Linked DNA regions of Homo sapiens. The protein of the gene in region 1 purifies or fractionates together with the protein of each later gene. This does not show direct contact. Each region holds a gene or a part of one and is shown in the gene's direction. Other genes may lie near its edges.

Evidence for each region.
Region 2: the proteins of FLG2 (region 1) and DSG1 purify together in Homo sapiens (affinity purification with mass spectrometry, with the first as the bait; one large-scale study listed by BioGRID). This does not show direct contact.
Region 3: the proteins of FLG2 (region 1) and ARMC9 purify together in Homo sapiens (co-immunoprecipitation; one large-scale study listed by IntAct). This does not show direct contact.
Region 4: the proteins of FLG2 (region 1) and KPLCE purify together in Homo sapiens (affinity purification with mass spectrometry, with the first as the bait; one large-scale study listed by BioGRID). This does not show direct contact.

Annotation. Positions count from the first base shown.
Region 1 is NC_000001.11:152,356,777-152,362,212, reverse strand, and holds the start of FLG2 (filaggrin-2), read left to right. Parts: upstream 1-2,206; 5' UTR 2,207-2,257; intron 2,258-3,306; 5' UTR 3,307-3,328; coding exon 3,329-3,466; intron 3,467-4,565; coding exon 4,566-5,436. UniProt on the Homo sapiens protein: Essential for normal cell-cell adhesion in the cornified cell layers. Important for proper integrity and mechanical strength of the stratum corneum of the epidermis.
Region 2 is NC_000018.10:31,316,138-31,321,563, forward strand, and holds the start of DSG1 (desmoglein-1 preproprotein), read left to right. Parts: upstream 1-2,022; 5' UTR 2,023-2,163; coding exon 2,164-2,211; intron 2,212-5,426. UniProt on the Homo sapiens protein: Component of intercellular desmosome junctions. Involved in the interaction of plaque proteins and intermediate filaments mediating cell-cell adhesion.
Region 3 is NC_000002.12:231,358,580-231,363,234, forward strand, and holds part of ARMC9 (lisH domain-containing protein ARMC9), read left to right. Parts: intron 1-2,174; coding exon 2,175-2,304; intron 2,305-4,128; exon of another isoform or gene 4,129-4,214; intron 4,215-4,655. UniProt on the Homo sapiens protein: Involved in ciliogenesis. It is required for appropriate acetylation and polyglutamylation of ciliary microtubules, and regulation of cilium length. Acts as a positive regulator of hedgehog (Hh)signaling.
Region 4 is NC_000001.11:152,717,639-152,721,574, forward strand, and holds KPLCE (protein KPLCE), read left to right. Parts: upstream 1-1,883; coding exon 1,884-2,636; 3' UTR 2,637-2,832; downstream 2,833-3,936.

The DNA of each region.
Region 1 (5,436 bases):
GCAGTAATTATATAGTGTACTAAGAATGTATTATATGCCAGGCAGGTACTAAGCAATTTCATATGTTAAGTAATTGCCACCTGTTAGGTAAGTGTTATTGTTCCCATTCTATAATTTGGGAGACTGAGGCTGAGAAGATTAGATAATTGTACAAGAAATGCAGTAAGAGGCAAAATTGAGATTAGAACTTAGGTCTTTCTGACTATAATTTTATCCATTATGCTAAGCAAGTAGAAGAGGAAGAGAGACCTAAATGCAAAGAATACAAAAGACTGAATAATGGAGTTCTGAACTATGGAGGAGTTTCAGAGTTCTCAACTATAATGCTGGAGTGACAGTGCAAAAATGCTTTAAAATTCTGTCTCAGTGTGGAGTCTGGGGCCTGAAAGTCTTTCTGACACAGCAGCCATCTTAACAAAAATGCACTTCCAAAAGATGCATATGATTGAAAATGACCATAGTATCCAACAGCAACCATAACTTTCTGTGTGGTTGTTTTGGTCTAGGATTCCTTGGCTATGTGAGCAATTGACATATTTCAAGGGCCTATTCATTAACATTTTATGAACAGACACTCATTCTTAGTGTTTACCAAGCTCTAGGTGCTGCCTAGATGGTGGAATGAATAAGATATGATGACTGGCCCAAAGCAATGCCCAGATAGGAGTTTATTGACTCCATATATGTAGAATATATATGGTTAAGTGCTAGGCTTTAGCATCGGCTAGCATGTGTATCTGTTCTAGTGCTGCTACTAACTAGCTGCGATTTGTAACAAATGTTTACATTGCTCTATGCTTTTATTACCTTATCTATAAAATGGGGTTATTTTGAGGAATAAATAGATAAGCATGTAAACCTACCATGTATAGAAGATAGTAAGCACTTAGCACTTAATGGTAGCTGCTATCCTCCTCATCATCATCATTATCACCTGGTAGCAAAGTACAGCAGAATTGGCTCTCCATGCTTAAGACTTACAGCTCTCTGATTATTTTTGTTACCCTCAAGTGTATTTGATATACTTTCTGTACATAAGTGAACATTTTCCCAAGGGTCCAGGCCCTAAACATGCCAGACTACCAGTGGATCGCAGAGTGCTGGAAGAAAGCTCACTCTAAATTCACCCTGAACATATCTGAAAACATTATTTTTATATATAGCCAATTACACTTTTCTAGCCTAGAAATGAGCCTTCACAAGGTCAGAGAATGTTTCCTCTCTTCCTAACAGCACTCTGTATGTTACTTTTTTATATTATTTGCGTTTGAGTGGGCCTTACACTCCTAAAATGGTGCATAATTTTTGCATGATAGTTATATATGATAAATACACAGAGGTAAGTTAGTATAATGGTAAACAGCAATTGCAATAAGGTAGATACAGGTTCAACTTCTGGTTTCTCTGCCTACTAGCTATGACCTTGGAGAAGATCCTTATGCTTCCAGAACCTGTCTCTATAAAATGGGATAATAAATACATATCTCGTATGAAGGTTGTGAAGATTAAATGAGGTGATAAGATCTAGTATTTGGTAACATAATATGGTAACTATAGTTAACTATTTATTGTATATTTTTAAATAACTAAAATAGTAGAATTAGAATGTTCCTACTACAAAGAAATGCTTGAGGTGCTGGATACCCCAATTACTGTAATTTGATCATTACACATGGTATGCCCATATCAAAACATCACATGTACCCAACAATTATATACAACTATGTACCCATAACTAAAAGTGCAGATTTTTTAAAGATTGAGATGGTTTGTTTAAAGTATTTAGCACATAGTAAATTCTCAATAAATGTCACTTTTTATTATTACAAAAAAGACATGAATTAGATGAACCTAGTGGCTCAGGTTCATTTTCAATTAAATAAGCATTTATTGTGCACCTTCCAAGTATCTTACACTCTGCTACTTTCTGTGGGTACTAGTTAAAAGAAATGTATAACATGAGTCCTCTAAAACAAAGTCTGTGCTTTTCACATGTATATGACCCTGAAAAAAAAGGTATCTTGCAACCATGTCCTCGTACTGGAAGGTGGGGCTGGTACTAGCCTTTCTGCAATCATCTGTAGATAACAATGTGAAGGAGGAAGGTAAATATGTAGAGGTGGAGTTAGGTTTGATGGAAAATGAATCACCTCATTCACTATAATCACTATAAGCTATATAAGGGTCATTATCCCAATCCATCGTCACCCTGCAAGCTGCATCAGGCTTTATCCTACTTGTTCCTTTGGTGAACCAGGTGAGAGAAAATTCATCCAGCTACATTTATGAATATTTGGTGTTGTCCATAGTAGAAGTCTAGGGATATAAGCTAAGGCAGAGTTCATGTATATTTTGCCTTTCTTTTCTTTTTTGTTTCTTTCTTTCATTTTCTTTTCTTTTTGTTTGCTTATTTGTTTGGTTAGTTTAGTTTATTCTGGGGCCTTTTTGTAGTTAAGTTCATTTTTATGGAGAAGAATAATGCAAGTAAAAGTTCACCTTCCTCTAGGCCATTCCACAGTCTGTTCCGAGTCTTTTTCCATGCCCTCTTTTCTGGGCTGTCCAGCTCAAACTGGGAGGCAGCTGGGTCTGTTGCAGAGTCCCTTCCTTATTCAGTGTTGGTTCCCAGAGCTCCAAGATCTAATTATCCACTAGTTAAACTGCTGCCTGCATTGCTGAGCTCTTCTTCTTGATTAATTAAAGAAAACAGTGTTTGGTCAAGTGCTTGACATTAAGAGAGTTCCTAAGCTCTACTGAGTTCTACTGTCTCATGCCTATGAAACACCAAGCTATTTTGAGCCCCTTTGCCCATTTTTAATTTGCTGAAGGCCTTAAGGGTCCAGTTTAGCTTCTGGTGCCCAGAGGATAAACAGATGTGCATGGTGGAAGGTCTGTCACTTTTGACTCAAGAAAAGCAGTGAAACTAGAAAGAGAGATTGAGGCAATGGTGTCTGGCTGGTTCTGGAAATTTTGGAAGCCTTAGAACAACACCCAGAATGCCAACACACTCAAAGTGTAGAGATACTATGTAGAGACTATACTTACCCATGACAGGAAATATAGAGACTTGAGGTCTATTCTCAGTTGAACCAGTAACATGCCAAGACTTGATCACAGAAAAGTAACTCAAAGTTAACAAAGTTAATTTTCATTGTGTTAAACGGGGTTGTATCATCCCTGGCCCATTCTTACGTTTTGAGATTTAAAAAACAAGAGGTTAAAAAAATCATGCTGGTTATTATTAAAATGAAAATTGCTGATAAAAGGAGAGAATATGAATAATAGGGTTCTTTGTTTTTCTGTGTCCAGGTTCACTTAAACTTGCAAAAAGATGACCGACCTCTTGAGAAGTGTTGTCACCGTAATTGATGTTTTCTACAAATACACCAAGCAAGATGGGGAGTGTGGCACACTGAGCAAGGGTGAACTAAAGGAACTTCTGGAGAAAGAGCTTCATCCAGTTCTGAAGGTGAGAGCCATGTGCCAGAACTGAAGGCTGCTGGAGTCCTGTACAAGCTCTGTTGTATGACCCAGATCAGCTAAAAAGTGCACAGCCCCAGTGAACTCTAAGCAAACTCTATGAGTGGTATTTTGGGGATGCCAGAAAGTCTGTTAAAGCAGCAGATATTTTAAAGAAAGTGAATGTTTCGTCCTCACTTTTCCACCTATGCACTCCTACCTCATAGACTCTCAGACTTTCTCATACACCCAGGCTTTTCCTTAGAAAAAGCAGAAAATAAAATTATACTAGGACACGAATTAATAAATTATCCTATCAAATGGAAAAAAAAGTATAGAAAGGGAAATCATCTACATAGGGAGTTGACAAAATAGCCATGATTAAGAATCAAAAATAAAATGCCAGCATTTTATTCCATCTACTTAAAAAGGACTCAGCTAGGCGCGGTGGCTCATGCCTGTAATCCCAGCACTTTGGGAGGCCGAAGTGGGTGAATCACAAGGTAAGGAGATCAAGACCATCCTGGCTAATACGGTGAAACCCCATCTCTACTAAAAATACAAAAAATTAGCCGGGCGTGGTTGCATGCCCCTGTAGTCCCAGCTACTCGGGAGGCTGAGGCAGGAGAATGGCGTGAACCTGGGAGGCAGAGCTTGCAGTGAGCAGAGATCGCACCACTGCACTCCAGCCTGGGCTACAGAGCAAGACTCCATCTCAAAAAAAAAAAAAAGACTCAGTTATTAACTTCAAAATAATAGATGATAAATTCCAACATGGAAGATATTAACATGTAATAGTTACAATTTATGTAAAACTTAGAAATACCAGTTACTGAACTTAGTTTATTCCACTCCTTCCTGTAGGCCTTACCTAAGCACTTAATCCTTTAGCCTAAATCCTTGAAATGTCTTCTTCTGAGGATCCCAGTAGTCTTTATTTTCTATTAACCCTTAACATTTACTGGGTTCTATTAACCTAAAGTAATCCTTTATTGGACTAAAACTACATCATGTCAAACATCCATAATTTCACAGCGCTATTTAAATGTGTTAGTTGAGTATGCAGGTTAGGCTGACCAGGTCTCCCTTGGTGTGTCACTCATATACAGAACCCAGATGATCCAGACACAGTGGATGTCATCATGCATATGCTGGATCGAGATCATGACAGAAGATTGGACTTTACTGAGTTTCTTTTGATGATATTCAAGCTGACTATGGCCTGCAACAAGGTCCTCAGCAAAGAATACTGCAAAGCTTCAGGGTCAAAGAAGCATAGGCGTGGTCACCGACACCAAGAAGAAGAAAGTGAAACAGAAGAGGATGAAGAGGATACACCAGGACATAAATCAGGTTACAGACATTCAAGTTGGAGTGAGGGAGAGGAGCATGGATATAGTTCTGGGCACTCAAGGGGAACTGTGAAATGTAGACATGGGTCCAACTCCAGGAGGCTAGGAAGACAAGGTAATTTATCCAGCTCTGGGAACCAAGAGGGATCTCAGAAAAGATACCACAGGTCCAGCTGTGGTCATTCATGGAGTGGTGGCAAAGACAGACATGGTTCCAGCTCTGTAGAACTGAGAGAAAGAATAAACAAGTCACACATTAGCCCTTCTAGGGAATCTGGGGAGGAGTATGAATCTGGATCTGGATCAAACAGTTGGGAAAGGAAAGGTCATGGTGGTCTGTCATGTGGATTGGAGACTAGTGGGCATGAATCAAACTCTACTCAGTCAAGAATTAGAGAACAAAAGCTTGGGTCTAGCTGTTCAGGTTCAGGAGACAGTGGGAGGCGAAGTCATGCATGTGGTTATAGCAATTCAAGTGGGTGTGGAAGGCCACAAAATGCTTCAAGTTCTTGTCAGTCACATAGATTTGGAGGGCAAGGAAATCAATTTAGCTATATTCAGTCAGGCTGTCAGTCAGGAATTAAGGGAGGACAAGGCCATGGCTGTGTCTCAGGAGGTCAGCCCTCTG
Region 2 (5,426 bases), on another chromosome or scaffold:
TAAGCAAAGTTAAATATTCTCTTCCTTAGTCATAATAACCATATTTTAAATCCTCAATAGTCACATATTATAAATGGCTACCATATCTGACAGCATAGATAGAGAATATGTTCGTATTGCAGAAAGTTCTACTGGATAGCACTGTTCTGAGGACGTTAAAATGAGTAAGAAAGAGAAAAAGGCAGGGAAGGAGGCAAGGGAGAGAAAGTGATTAACAAATTCCCTCTCCCGCTGTGTTTAACATCGTATTGGCTCTCATGTAACTGCCAAGACAGACGCTGCTCTGCAGTATTGGAGTTCTATCACACCTCCTCTCCAGAAAGATGTTTGAGAGATTGCTGCCTTATGAATCCCCTAGTCATATAGGATTGTTGGAGCAAGGCATTGAGTTAGGGGTGGAGCCAGGGTTAGGTTTAAGGAAAGGTAATTTAATGGATGAAGGAGGCCCCCATGCATGCCCTAGCATCATGCCCAGAATCCGAGATGCATAAAACATTGACTCGCCACTGGAAAGCTGCAAGAGTAGGTGCAGTTGTCTCTGGTGCCCAGTGAGTCTTCTGCTATTCATGGTCAGACAACATGATACTAATATATTGCTCAGACTAAGTCATAGGTTAATACAGTCTATTTTATTTGACATTTCTCATTAGAGAAAATCGGCCAGCTCATCTTTCTAAATTTTATTTATTTACATCTGCTATTTACAATCATAAACATTCTTATTCACTGCAAATAAACATGGGCAGCCTATCTCCTCCCCTCCACACTGTATGATGGATAATATGGAAATTCAAACCACACATCTTCTTTGCCACAAATCTGTAGTGAAATGACAGCCTTCTATAGACCCTCTGACCCTCAGAGATTTTCTTCCTTTTGGAGACATTTTGAGTATCTTTTTGACCATAATCAACATCTTATCAGGTAGGTCTCTTGTTCTAAGTAGCCGTTTCAAACTCTGAGGGTGTCCAGTGTCTATGAGCTTCCTGCCACTCACAATATTTATACTAGACGTTGCCAGGGGAAGAGAAGAGAGTCCAAAAATATGTCCAAATGCTGCCCTGTGAAGGTTGCTATTTATTTTCACAAACCTCAGGGCTGCATTCAGTTTCCCGTCTACCTGTGTAGGCAGCCATTTCTTCAGTGTATTCCCTATGTTCTAATTGGCTCGCTGTACAGATTCTTGGCTCTGTGCTTAGGAATTGTCATTGACTTTTAACCCACCTCACCTGCTGAGCAGCTTTCTGTGTTTTCATTAGTATTTCAGGCACCGAATCTCATTTTTAAAGTTATTATCAGGATTTTAATTGGTGGTTCTCACTATTCACCCTTAAGTTTAGTAATATTTAAATTTTTATTTTGTTGCATTTAATAAAAGAATCATAAAGAAAGAAAAATAATTAGGGAGAGAAAATAATTTCTTTAGAGGGAAAATGGAGGATTCCTTAGACTGAAGGCTGGTCAGTTAATGGGAATTGTGACTTATGCAGAGGATCTAATAATTGTAAGTATCATGGTTTTACTTGTTTGAATTAATAACTTTAAAAAATCTCAGTCTTGCATTAGCATATTTTCTGTCTCTTAACAACCGAAAATAACTGAAACTTTCCCAACATCTACTAAAATGGAAAGTTTGTCATTTTCTACTATGACCTGAGGGTTTGGCTACAAACAGATAATGGAATGAATAAGATGAGCATTCAAGTTATACCTGCCTGTTTAATATGGGGAGAAACTAAACCACCTGTAAAGAAAGCATGGGGTGAGAAGCCCCCATCACCTGTATAACCCTCGGTATTTCTGTTCACTTTAAGAGCCTGCCACTGAAAACATTCAGTAAAGGAGTGAATCTTCCTTGCCCCATCAAGAGTCGCTTTTCAGCTGGAGGAAGGGTGTGTCCCCAAGTTTTTACCTGGGAGCAATGATGATCTTGTCAAGCATTTCAGTGAGACCAGCCCAAGTTTTTAGGGTGGGGATCCAGACTGGTTATACGTACCTTCAGTCCTTCTCCCAGAGGAAGGCAGAAACACCTCAAAGCCTGCATGTAAGAACATCTACTGAGAAATTATTTTAATCAGACACCAGCTGAGTGGGAGAAAGAAAAAGAACAGAGAAGAACAAACAAAACTCCCTTGGTCTTGGATGTAAGAGAATCCAGCAGAGATGGACTGGAGTTTCTTCAGAGTAGTTGCAATGCTGTTCATTTTTCTGGTGAGTGGATTCTGGTAAAAGTCCTTCATAATCGTGCCCATTGTAAACAAGTGAAAACTTTTTAGAAAATGTTAGTGGGCATTATTTCTAACCTAAACCCATTGAAAATGTATATTAATGACAAGATGATTTTATGAACTAGATTTTTCAATAGCATTTCTCTCTTTAATTGAAGACTCAAGATCATGTTAATGCCTCAGTGTCAACTCATTGTATTACATCTCTGACACTGAAGTCATTGCTAAGTCATGCTGGGAAAAGACTGAATTTAGGAAATTCCTATCGCTAGTTAGTAGCACTTTGTCGTTCAAAATCTCTTCTGCAAGAGGGCTTTTAAACTAAATATCACAAGTGTGTCTGGATTTTTAACCTGTTTTTTTTTTTATTTTTTTTGTGTGTTTGGTGGTGGAATTACTCTAATTTTTAAAACATAAAAATAGCACCACATAATTTAAAATCGTAGCAGTTTGTGGCTGGTCTCGCTATCCAAATAAAGTCATCAGTTGCATATTTGGTTAGAATCTGTATCACTACTATAAAAAGCCCCGCACTATTTAACTATGATTTTATTTAAAACATTTTTAATTTCAAAAAACGGCAGTACAGGAGGTTTATAAATGACATATTAAGTGAAGAAGTGGCTATAATTAAAGAGTAAGTATAATTATTATTACACTCGATCTTACTACTGGAATGTCAGTGATGACTGCGATATAAAAGTTGTGCACTTGATCGTCTGACGAATGTAATGAAATACTTTATCATTGCCCCCTTACATGTAATTAGTTTTCTTGCTGTAGAGATAATACTAAGTGCACCACTAATGTATTATGTCAATTTCACTTTCAGTGAAAATTTGAAAATTGTAATCTCTCTCATAGTAAGGTTAATGTAATTCAAAAAGGCAGGTGCCAAGTAAATTGCCCTCCAGCTTGGCAGGATGTATAGTGCTGTGGTTCACATTTGTTTCTACTTGCTTAATTTTTGAACTGGAATGTTGGGTTGGTTGGTATAATAAGTTAGATCTTTGATTCAAAGTATGCTGGTTAGTTTGAATTCAGTTTTATTAACTAAGGCGGGACATAATCAGTGGATTTAGTTATAAATGAGCATCAGTAAGCTGGTGGCTTTGGTTCCAAGCTTTCCTTCAAACATTAGTCCTATCCCATGCTCTTTTCAGTGGATATTTAGGATCAGTTGATTTCATTACTTAGGATTTGGTAGGGATCACTGATCATTATACAGTATGTCATTTGAAATATGAGAGTTTCATATTGTCAGTAATCAAGCACTTTTACTTAAAATTTCAAATAAATTTGATCCATTAAGAGCTATTATAGTTTTAGTTGATCAGCTTGTTCAGATAGGTGTACACTAACTTTCATAGAATCTCTAAGATGTGCCTTATTTGTTGATTTATTTATTTCAAATTAATTATAGCATATCAAATTTCTTTAAACAGCCACTTCCTATTTAGTCATTCTTCAATAAAATGTATCATCATCAAAATCATATATCTTTATTGAACTTTCTCTAGCTGTGCCTAGATTTTTTTTTGTTGGCTTATGGGGGTTTTTTTGGGAATGGGGGAAGAGGAGGTTACCTTATTTTATATTGAAATTAATCACAAGTCTCCCACATGCCTTATGAAAATTTTTTCTCAAAGAACTTACACTATCATGAATTACAATGTTTCATTTTCACGTTGACATCATAGGTTTTTTTGGAAAACATTTCACTTTCTAAGGTTTGGAAGATCAAAATTTATTTTAAGTACAGATTTTACCACATGGGATAATTTTGGTAATTGTGCTTTGGAGTTTCCTAATCTGTATTTTTCTTTAAAATACTTTTTTTCTTCATAAAACAACCACCACTATAGCAAATTCTTTCAGTTATCTTTCTCCTAGTCTCATTATAAATGCATGCTTTTACCAAAAAATGAAAAAAAATTTATGTAAAGTCTTTATATTCGTCTCTACTCAAAGTCAATAAGCGGGAACCTGCATTAGGAAGCGTATTTGTACAATTGTTAAGGCCTTTAAGATATTTAAATTGGTAGTGTCTTTTAAGCAAATCTACCTGAGAACTGGGTAACTATTTGTTTGCAAGCATACTGTGTATTCATCTCAATGCATCTGAAGGTTGTGAACCTTGTTCAAATGAGTGGGTTGAATCAGGGAGAACAAAGCTGGAGGAGCTGCTCTTACAGCAATCAAGATCGCTCTATGGCTATTCCATTGTTCTGACAAGTCTCCTGGACAGGCAAGAGATTACACCTGCTATAACACTGCAAGTCAAACACATTTTGTTAATTCTGCATCTATTTTTCATTCTTCTTTTTGTTTCCATGTAATCAGTGTATGGAGTAGAGAAAGGAGTTAGAATGTATTTTCTCTAGGCCTGAGAACAATGCTTCTTATGCACCAAATAAAAGAAATCTATGTGCATGTATATGACAATGGTAAAAAGTACAGCATGGTCACTGTGGGAAAGCAAAACAGAGCCAGAGGGATCTCTATGGTTTTAATGATTTCTGAAAATTACTTGCAACTTTGCCAGGTCCAATTAGTCCATTTAAGTCAATACAAATCTGAAGATGTCTTTTTCTAAAAAGGTAAATTTCTGCAGCTCAAGCTCAAAGAACAGAGAAAATGACTTTTATCTATGACCATGAATGATCTGATTATTTTGGTTCATTATAGTAACCATTTTCCCCCTCTTTCTATGGGTTAATATTTCATTTCGAAACAAACAAACAAAAAAAAACCCAACCCTCTGACACCTGATAAACTAACTCCACAGTTTGAACCGAACTGAAATTCTGTAAAATATGAGCAGGAGTTTTTAAGAGTACTTTCATCACTCAGGCTAAAATACACAGAAAATAATACACATTTCATTACATAGTTCCTAAACTTACTTGAAGACATCTTAAGTCCCCAAAATTGTGTTCACAGATGCCTAAAGCAAGAGAAGAACTAACAAATTAGTACAGACCAAACAGAAGACAAGCAAAAGAGAGAGCTCTTTGTGCTTTCTTGAGCGTGTATTATAGTGATATGTAGTATAGAGATCAGTGTTTCAGTAAAATATTTTGTAGAAAATGGAAGGAATATTTCTGTTCACGTATTCAGTGAAACTTACAAATTGCATTCAAGTGTCATCATTAACAGTTATATGGTGTTCATAAAAGCTTTATTATTTCGCTGTAG
Region 3 (4,655 bases), on another chromosome or scaffold:
TGCTGAGTCTGGCCTGTGCTGGGAACTAACGCCCCACCCAGAGACCCCGTGGAAACCCCCACCTTCACGCTGAGTTTCTTGAGGAAGAGCCTTTGCGCTTTGCGTTCAGTCAGCACCGCAGGGAAAACTCATGAGGAGGAACCTGTTGGACCCTCAAACTGCTTGATCGGTTGAGTGCAGGCCCAGAAAGTACATTCTAGGCAAAAGACAGCCCCAAATGCCAACAGGAAATAGTTCCCAAGGGAAAAGGCCAATAATATGGCTTAGCATTTTGCAGAACGTTGGCCTAAGGAAAGCTATTCTCATTTCCCCACCAACCAGGACTATCTTCAATATCAAAATCACATGCCTTGGGACTTCATAGCCCTGGGAGTTAAAATGCCCAGCCCTGTCTGAAATGGACCAGCAGGCAAGAGATACTACTGTCCCAGGAAGACCCCGGTGCACACCCATGGCTGCCCCATCTCCTAGCTCCTGGCTGTCTTAGTTAGGGGGGTCTCCTGTTTTTTTTTTTTTTTTTTTTTGAGATGGAGTCTCGCTCTCTCACCCAGGCTGGAGTGCAGTGGTGCGATCTTGGCTCACTGCAAACTCCGCCTCCCGGGGTTCAAGTGATTCCCCTGCCTCAGCCTCCTGAGTAGCTGGGATTACAGGCATGTGTTACCATACCCGGCTAATTTTTGTATTTTTAGTAGAGACAGGGTTTTACCATGTTGGCCAGGCTGGTCTCAAACTCCTGGCCTCAAGTGATCTGCCTGCCCCAGCCTCCCAAAGTGGTGGGATTACAGGCGTGAGCCACCGTGCTCAGCTGGTCTCTTGTTCTTGGTGGGACCTCTGAAAGTCTTCAGTGTGGCCTGTGCTGGAGGAAGTAGGAGAGGAGAAGGGGACAGTTGAACCAAGACCACCTCATGGTCTTGGGACACTCCAGCTCAGTTCCTCCTTTTTTATGACCACCCCGTCCCCTACGCTCACACCCCCTGGGAAGCTCCTGGTCCTGGTCCTAGAGGACTTGCCTGGCGTGGGCACAGCTTTGTGACTCCACACGTTGTAATGGGGTTCCCCTGCGTGTAGCCCAGCAATTCGGTGTGACTTCACTCAAGTATTCTCTTGTACACCTACGCTTTTTCTCCTGGCCTTATTCTAAGCACACTGAGCATGTGCCTCCTGTCCTGAAGCTCTATTTCTAGACCCAGATCCAGGTGGAGACCGCCCAGTGCCACCCGCTGGGTTCTGGTATCAGAAATAGATTCTCGTTTGGGTCAAAAGAGAATTATCTGGAAGTCAAAGCCCCTTGCTACAGGGAAACCTGCAGGGAAGATCCCTTTATATTTAAGATTAAACAGATCACATTGCAAAGCCACAGAGGAGCTGCTAAAATGAAAGAGCTGAGAGGAGCTTGGCCTAAGGGAGTCACGGATGCAGCCTCTGTCACAGTGTCGCTGCAGCAGTGACATGGACCCCTTCAGCTGTAGGAGAAGAGGAGAGGCGGGGTGGGGGAAGGGGTGCGTGGCATCTGAGATGCAGGAACATCTGTTCCCAGGCCCTTGGGGAGCCCTCCGTATGCTATGATGCTATCTGGGATTCTCCGTCTGCTTCCCCGTGAAGGGCTCCTGCGTGTCCCGGGTGGCCTGGTTCTGGGTGGGCATCAGCTACAGCACAAGTCACTGGGAGTTAGGGCACTTCCTGGCCACCCTGGGTGTACCGAGTGGTTCAGCATTAAGGAGCCTTGGGCTGCTCGGTGAGGAGCACCCTACCTCTCAGGTTGTTGGTTTTAGCAAATAAAACTACACACCACCCAGTTACATTTGAGTTTCAGATAAGCAAATGGGCCTCCACATTCTGTCTGGGGGCGCCTAGCCATGGCCCAGGGAGACAATTTGTTGTTCTGAGGGCTTTCCAGAGGCTGAGGGGTGCCAGGAAGGCTGAGCGGCCAGGGTGATCTGAACCTCCCTGGGCTGTGCCTGTCACCACCAGCAGTGTGCCTGCCATCCCCCGCTACCTGGCAAGTTCCCGGGCTGCACGAGTAAACAAGTATCCCAAGCCACAGGCGCCAGGGAGCCCGCAGGGCCTGGCCTGGGGTGCGTGCTTTTCTTGGCTTTCCAACCCAGCCCACGAGAGGGCATCCTTAGAGGGGCTCCAGAGCAGATGTGGACTGAACTTTCTCTCCTCCTCCCCAGCAGCCATCATCGCCAAGCCAGGAGAGTGGCTCCCAAGAGGACGCCAGGAAGAGCCTCGCCCAGCCCCCACGGGGACCCCCCGCCAGCCAAGGGAGGCGCCCCAGGACCCAGGCAATGGAGTGACCACCAGGTAAGGGGGATATCACAAGGCCTCGAACCTGACTCTCGGAGCTCTGGGAGTGGGCGCCCCACGCCGGATGCAGAGCACCCAGGAGACCTGGAAGGCTCCTCTGAGGCCCAGCCTCTGACAGGGGAGGCTAAGGAGCAGTGTCAAGATTCCCAGCGGAGTGCAGCCGCCACTCCTGACCACCTCGGAGGGCTGTGCTGCCTGAGAGCCATCAGTCAGACGGGAAGGACACAGCACTCAGAAGCATGCCCATGGGACTAGTTTTCAAAACTGCCAGGCGGACTTGTCCAGGGCTGGGTGATGGGGTGACTTAGGGACAGTGTCCTGTCAGCTTTTTGCATTTGGAGGAAGTGGGCTGTAGGGCAGAAAGATGGAGAAGGAGGTGAGTAAATGGTTTGGCTCAGAGGTCACTTCCTGAAACAGAAACTGGGCCTCCAGGCTGGGGCGTGGTGGCGCACGCCTGTAATCCCAACACTTTGGGAGGCTGAGGCAGGAGGATTGCTTGAGCCCAGGAGTTTGAAACTAGCCTGGGCAACATAGTGAGACCCTGTCTCAAAAAAAAAAAAAAAATCAAAAAACTAAAAAAAAAAAAAGAAAAGAAAAAACTGGACCCCCGAGCAGAAGAAAAAAAAAAATAGTGTCCTCTCTTCCACTGTGCCACGTGAGCACAGACTGGCCCTGTGGGTTATTAGGGGTTCTTTAGGGTCTAGAAAGGACCTTTCCAATCTCGCCAGCTCTTTCTTTTGGATCTGGAGAAACCTGCTCAGGGAGAGGGGCCTGGCCTGGGTCTCAGACCCTGCCTGTCCCTGACCACCAGGCATGCCAGCTGCCCCTCACCACTTCCTCCTGGCCATGAAGGAAGCCAACCTCCTGCGGTAAAATATGGGGCTGGAGCAGGCTCAGCTTAGTTCTGGGGGCCCCCGGAGAGGACAGGCAGGAAGACTGAGCAGAACCTGCACCCACTGGTGGAGAAAATCGGAGAGAGAAAGAGGCAGGAAGAGAAATCAATGGGGAGTGGCAGACAGGAGGAGGATGTAAGAGAAAGGGGGCGCAGACAAGTGTGCTGAGCTTCCTTGGGTGGGATGGGCTAGAAGCCGAAATCGGAACTGTGGGAAGGATGGGAAGGACTTCAAGACCTGGGCTAGGGAAGGGTGGGGGCAGTCCCAGCTATCTTTAAGAAGCACGGGGTCAAAGGTGGCTGCATTACTGGGGGAGGGGCCAAGCCTCTGGACTCCTCCAGTTCCACTGCCAACCTGCCTGGGGACCCAGGGACCTACCTCCCCTACCTGGGCCTCCTCCCCTCTTTCTGTGGCTGAAGAGGAGCTTGTCAGCTAGACCAGGGGTTCTCAGGCTCTCAGCATCCCCCTGAAATGGGGACTCAAAATGAGAGACCTCTGAGGAGTGGGCTAGAGCTATCTCATGCCCCCAGTCCAGACTGGATCCTCCCCTGCGGTTCAGCCAGGCCAAACCTACGCTTCCGGTATAGGCCACTTCTTTTTACTTCCTGCAAATGCTGAGTTCATTTCTGAGGCTCTCCACTGGGGACAGCCCTCTCTCCCCAGAAATAACTGTTTTCACAGTAGGTAGGCAGCCGACCCTGAGGGACCTCATTACATCAAGCAGCGTTGCCTAGCTGGCCCCCCAAGATTCTACTGAGCACAAAGACCCCTCAGGGTCCAACCCAGAGGTGCCCTCCCCTTGGTGTCAGTCACTGAAGCCAGCTCTTATTTTAAGCCTGGGAGTTCAGTGTGAGGAAGAAGAGGATGGAAGGAGGGAGAAGTACAAGTTGTTCCATCTTCCTCTTCCTCCCTCACTGGCAACGTCATCTAGAATATTTCGGCATTCTAGATGAGAGATATATATATACCTCATATGTATATGGTATACCTCATCTAGAATGCTGTAATATTCTAAATCACAAGTGGCCATCTCTTGTCAGGCTGACTTCAGCCCCAATTCAGGTCTCACTGAAGCATCCCTTCCTCCTGCCTGACCCCAAAGTGCGGGTCACGCCCTTCTGCCAGGCTCACAGAAGCCACAGTCCCTCCACGGGGCGGAGACCCCACTGTGTTGTCATGTGGCTGCCTCTCACTGCCTCAGAGACAAGCGCAGTGTGCAGGGCACAGAGAGCGTGCAGGGCCTGCTGGGTATACGGGGAATGCAGGGCTGCAGGGAGTGTGCACAGTGTGCAAGGTATTCAGGAAGTGCAGGGCTGCAGGGAGTGTGCAAGGAGTGCAGGGAATGCAGGGCATGCAGGAGTGTGCACAGAGTGCCAGGAGTGCAGGGCATCTGTGCTGTGCTTCTGCACCTGGCCTAGGTGGTTAGAGTACTTGTTGATGAACAAGTAGGAGAAA
Region 4 (3,936 bases), 360 kb from region 1:
TTACCTGCTTTGTGATGAGGGTAACTCCCTTAAACTTTCAGGGCCTCAGTTGTGTCCATTTGTAAATGTACTGCCTCATGAATTGTTATATATAAAGTATTCAAATAAACTTTAGATTCTATTATTATTGTTGTTGTTGTTATCACACAGTGCTCATCTGGCTGGAATTTTCCCTGCTCAGCGTTCTTTGGAATTGAAGCCTGGTAGTGAGGTCCTGAAAGGTAAGAATGGGGGAGCCTAAGGGGCATGAGAAGGCTGAGGGGAGGCAGTCTAGACTCCAGCCTGGGGCCTAGGATCATTAAGCACCCACCCAGTTTCCAAATGAACCTAGAATAACCTGATGTTCCATGAAACAAACCATTTTTTGGAGGTCTTGTGTCATATTGGGCCAGAGACCACTGGGCCAAACTGTGCTCAGCAACCTAGACCAGCAGAAGTTACCTTGGAAGCCCACAGAACACTCATTTAGGCTGAGTGAAGTGAGGTGAATCTATAGTTAAATTCTCAATTTTTCATACACTGTGCCAAAAGCTACACTTAGCTTTAGATTAGATTCTCAATTTTAGTTTGATTCTCTGAGCTACACTTAGCTTTTGGCACAGTGTATGAAAAATTGAGAATCTAACTATAACTTGGATAAGTCCTGAAGACTCAAGTGACCTGGAAACAGCTTCATTAGAGACAGATCACATAGGCATCACTCATAACTTATAGGAAAAGGAGACTGACTTGTTTCCTGAGGAAGGGAACAGGAATCATTTATCTAGTGTTTGGGAAAACCCAATGTCAAGCACAGACATGCCCTGCCTCTGACTGAGGAGCCAGGCATACTGGGGAGGAATCTTGCCAATGCAACACCATCCCTTCTCCTTGTGATCTCTGGTGCTTCATTTAGATGCCATTAAATTGCCTCATTGCTGCCCTATAAAAGGTCTCCCCACCTGCTAGTTTTTCAGATCACTGACTTCTTCCAGTCTTGCTCCTATCAGCAAAGAGGGTAAGTCTCTATACGGGATAAGGACATGGTGAGAAACAGAGCTTTGGGGAAGCTGGGGTGGGATGAGAGCTGTGGGATGAAGGGTGAGCGAGGACTAGATGCTTAGGAAATCTGCTGAAGGAGGCTGAAAGCAATGCTGGTGGGAAACTTGGAGCCTGGGGCATGAGAGGAGAGGGAGGGGGACACGATGAGCTGGCATTCCTGTTTAAGAAGGGACTTTAGAGAACTGGCTCCCCATCCCCTTATCTGAATGCAATTGTGCAGTCCTCTCTTGGGTCTATGTGCTAATGAGGCCAACTGATTAGTCCAGCTGGTTCAAGGAGCACCTGGTAGAAACCTGCTCAAATTTAGCCTTGTTCTTTGCTCAGTACCGGGCACAGCTTGAGGCTCATGTTGGCTCAGGGTCCATGGACATAAATTTGTCTTTGCTGGGTATTCCTTGTCTGGGCAGAAGGAAGAAGGGAAGTCACCCTGGAGAGAACTGGTGGCAGGGGTCAATCATCTGGGAGCAGCAATTTCCAAAGGGTAATTCACAATGCAGACACTGAAGAAAGAGGAGAGGAGGCTTGGAGAGTTGGGTAGAAACACAGGCAGCACCATTTCAAGCCTCCATTTCCCAATATAGAGACTGAGGCCCAGAGGTAAGCGATGACTTGTACCAAGCCACATAGCCAGGTACAGGCACAGAAGCTGAGCTGAGAGTCCCTGGCTCTGAATCCACCTCCTGCCAAGTATACAGCCTCTGGATGTCTGCAACCTTCTCAAGAAAGCCTTGCTTGCAAATCACTGTATTCAAAGGGGATGTTGAAGGTTTCCCCTAGAAACCTTCCTGGTTTTACAGTTCTAATGAAACCTTTCTTTTCAGATTTTGCAAAGCCACAGAACAATGTGTGACCAGCAGAAGCAGCCACAGTTCCCTCCATCTTGTGTGAAAGGTTCGGGACTAGGGGCTGGGCAGGGTAGCAATGGTGCCTCTGTGAAATGCCCAGTTCCATGCCAGACCCAAACTGTCTGTGTGACAGGCCCTGCTCCATGCCCTACTCAAACTTATGTGAAGTACCAAGTTCCATGCCAGACTCAAACCTACGTGAAGTGCCCAGCTCCCTGCCAGAGGACCTATGTGAAATACCCAACACCCTGCCAAACCTATGTGAAGTGCCCAGCTCCCTGCCAGACAACCTATGTAAAATGCCCAACTCCCTGCCAAACCTACGTGAAGTGCCCAGCTCCCTGCCAGATGACCTACATCAAAAGTCCAGCTCCCTGCCAGACCCAGACGTGCTATGTCCAGGGTGCTTCTCCTTGCCAGAGCTATTATGTTCAAGCTCCTGCAAGTGGCTCAACCTCCCAGTACTGTGTCACTGACCCATGCTCTGCTCCCTGTTCCACCAGCTACTGCTGTCTGGCTCCCCGGACCTTCGGGGTGAGTCCCCTGAGACGCTGGATTCAGCGGCCCCAGAACTGCAACACAGGATCATCTGGCTGCTGTGAGAATTCGGGAAGCTCTGGATGCTGTGGTTCTGGGGGCTGTGGCTGCAGCTGTGGATGTGGCAGCTCTGGGTGCTGCTGTTTGGGAATTATCCCCATGAGGTCCCGAGGTCCTGCATGCTGTGACCATGAGGATGACTGCTGCTGCTAAACATACGACAGCTCAACTCCAGAATGCACTGCCCCGCTACCCCTTCTGGAACATGCACCAGCTTCTGGCCCCCTCTCTGTTAGTGCCAGTGATGTAGAACCTCATCACTTTGCCTCTGTGCTTTGCTTCTCTACCAAGGCAGCCTGCCAGAGTTAGTACAGTCCCCAAACTTTGGCATGAATAAAGCTCTGAATGCATTTCGTGGTAATTTCTGTCTGTTTGTTTGGTCCATATTTATGCTTTTCTATCAGGCACTCTTCTGCATCCCTCTCTTCTTACTCTTGTTTCTCAGCTAGAGGAAAGATCTGCACGAACATGAACAAGCAGACTGAGCTGGTGAAATCCCAGCCTGGGAGCCCCATGCCTTCTAGAATGCTGTGAATAAACTTTCCCACGCAAGTTAGAAGCATCTGAAAATGGAGATTTGAGGGTTGGGGCTGTTTCTGTGCTGCCCTTTGATGAGCCTCAGAGCAGGGTTGACCATGATGAGACCCTCATCTTCCTGGGTGTTGGAGAGATTGTGAAATTGTATCTGCTCATGGACCAGTATCACTGGTCATGGTCAGTATCACTGGACCATGTCTCCACCACTGTGCAGAGGGCTTGAACCCATGCAGGACTTTATGAATTACATTTTCTCATCTGACAGGCTTGCCCTGTTGAAACTATAGGTTGAAGGCCTGAGGGAAAAGGCTAGGAGCCCCCTGAAGTGGGTAGGTATTCACCAGGTCAGTCCTGGTAGTAAGTGAGCCATCTCCAAAGGAAGGTGAATCTTGTGCGAGGGGCTTCTGGGCCCCCTTCTGGGCCCCTCACCCTAGTTAGCTTTTTCTTCTCCATTGCTTAGCTAGCTCTAGAGAATTTGGGGTGGACTTTTGTAACTAAAGATTCCAAATACACACATTAAAAAAATAGAGGAGTAACAAGTGTTCAAAACAATCCCACAAGGTCTGGTGCATAGGAGACAATGTTTGGTGATGTATAAATGAACGCATAAAGGAATGAATGAAAAAGGGAATCATGTGTTTGTTTCTAACCCTGGACACTAGCAGAAGATCATCTTGACTACTCTGCTGCCTTTGAATGTCTAAACACCTGTATCTCCACAAACAGCACAATATCCCTTCATCCAAACTCCCTAAACTTACAGCCCAGTCACTGGAAACCCACTCAGGGAAGGAACTGCCTTGGCCAGGGCCACACTTTCCTCTTGTACCACCAACTGGGTCCTGCAATGTTGGAGGATGGGGTGCTAAAGTTCCCTGTGGTCTAGTCTCTTTAGAGAATGGTATCTGCAAAGCCC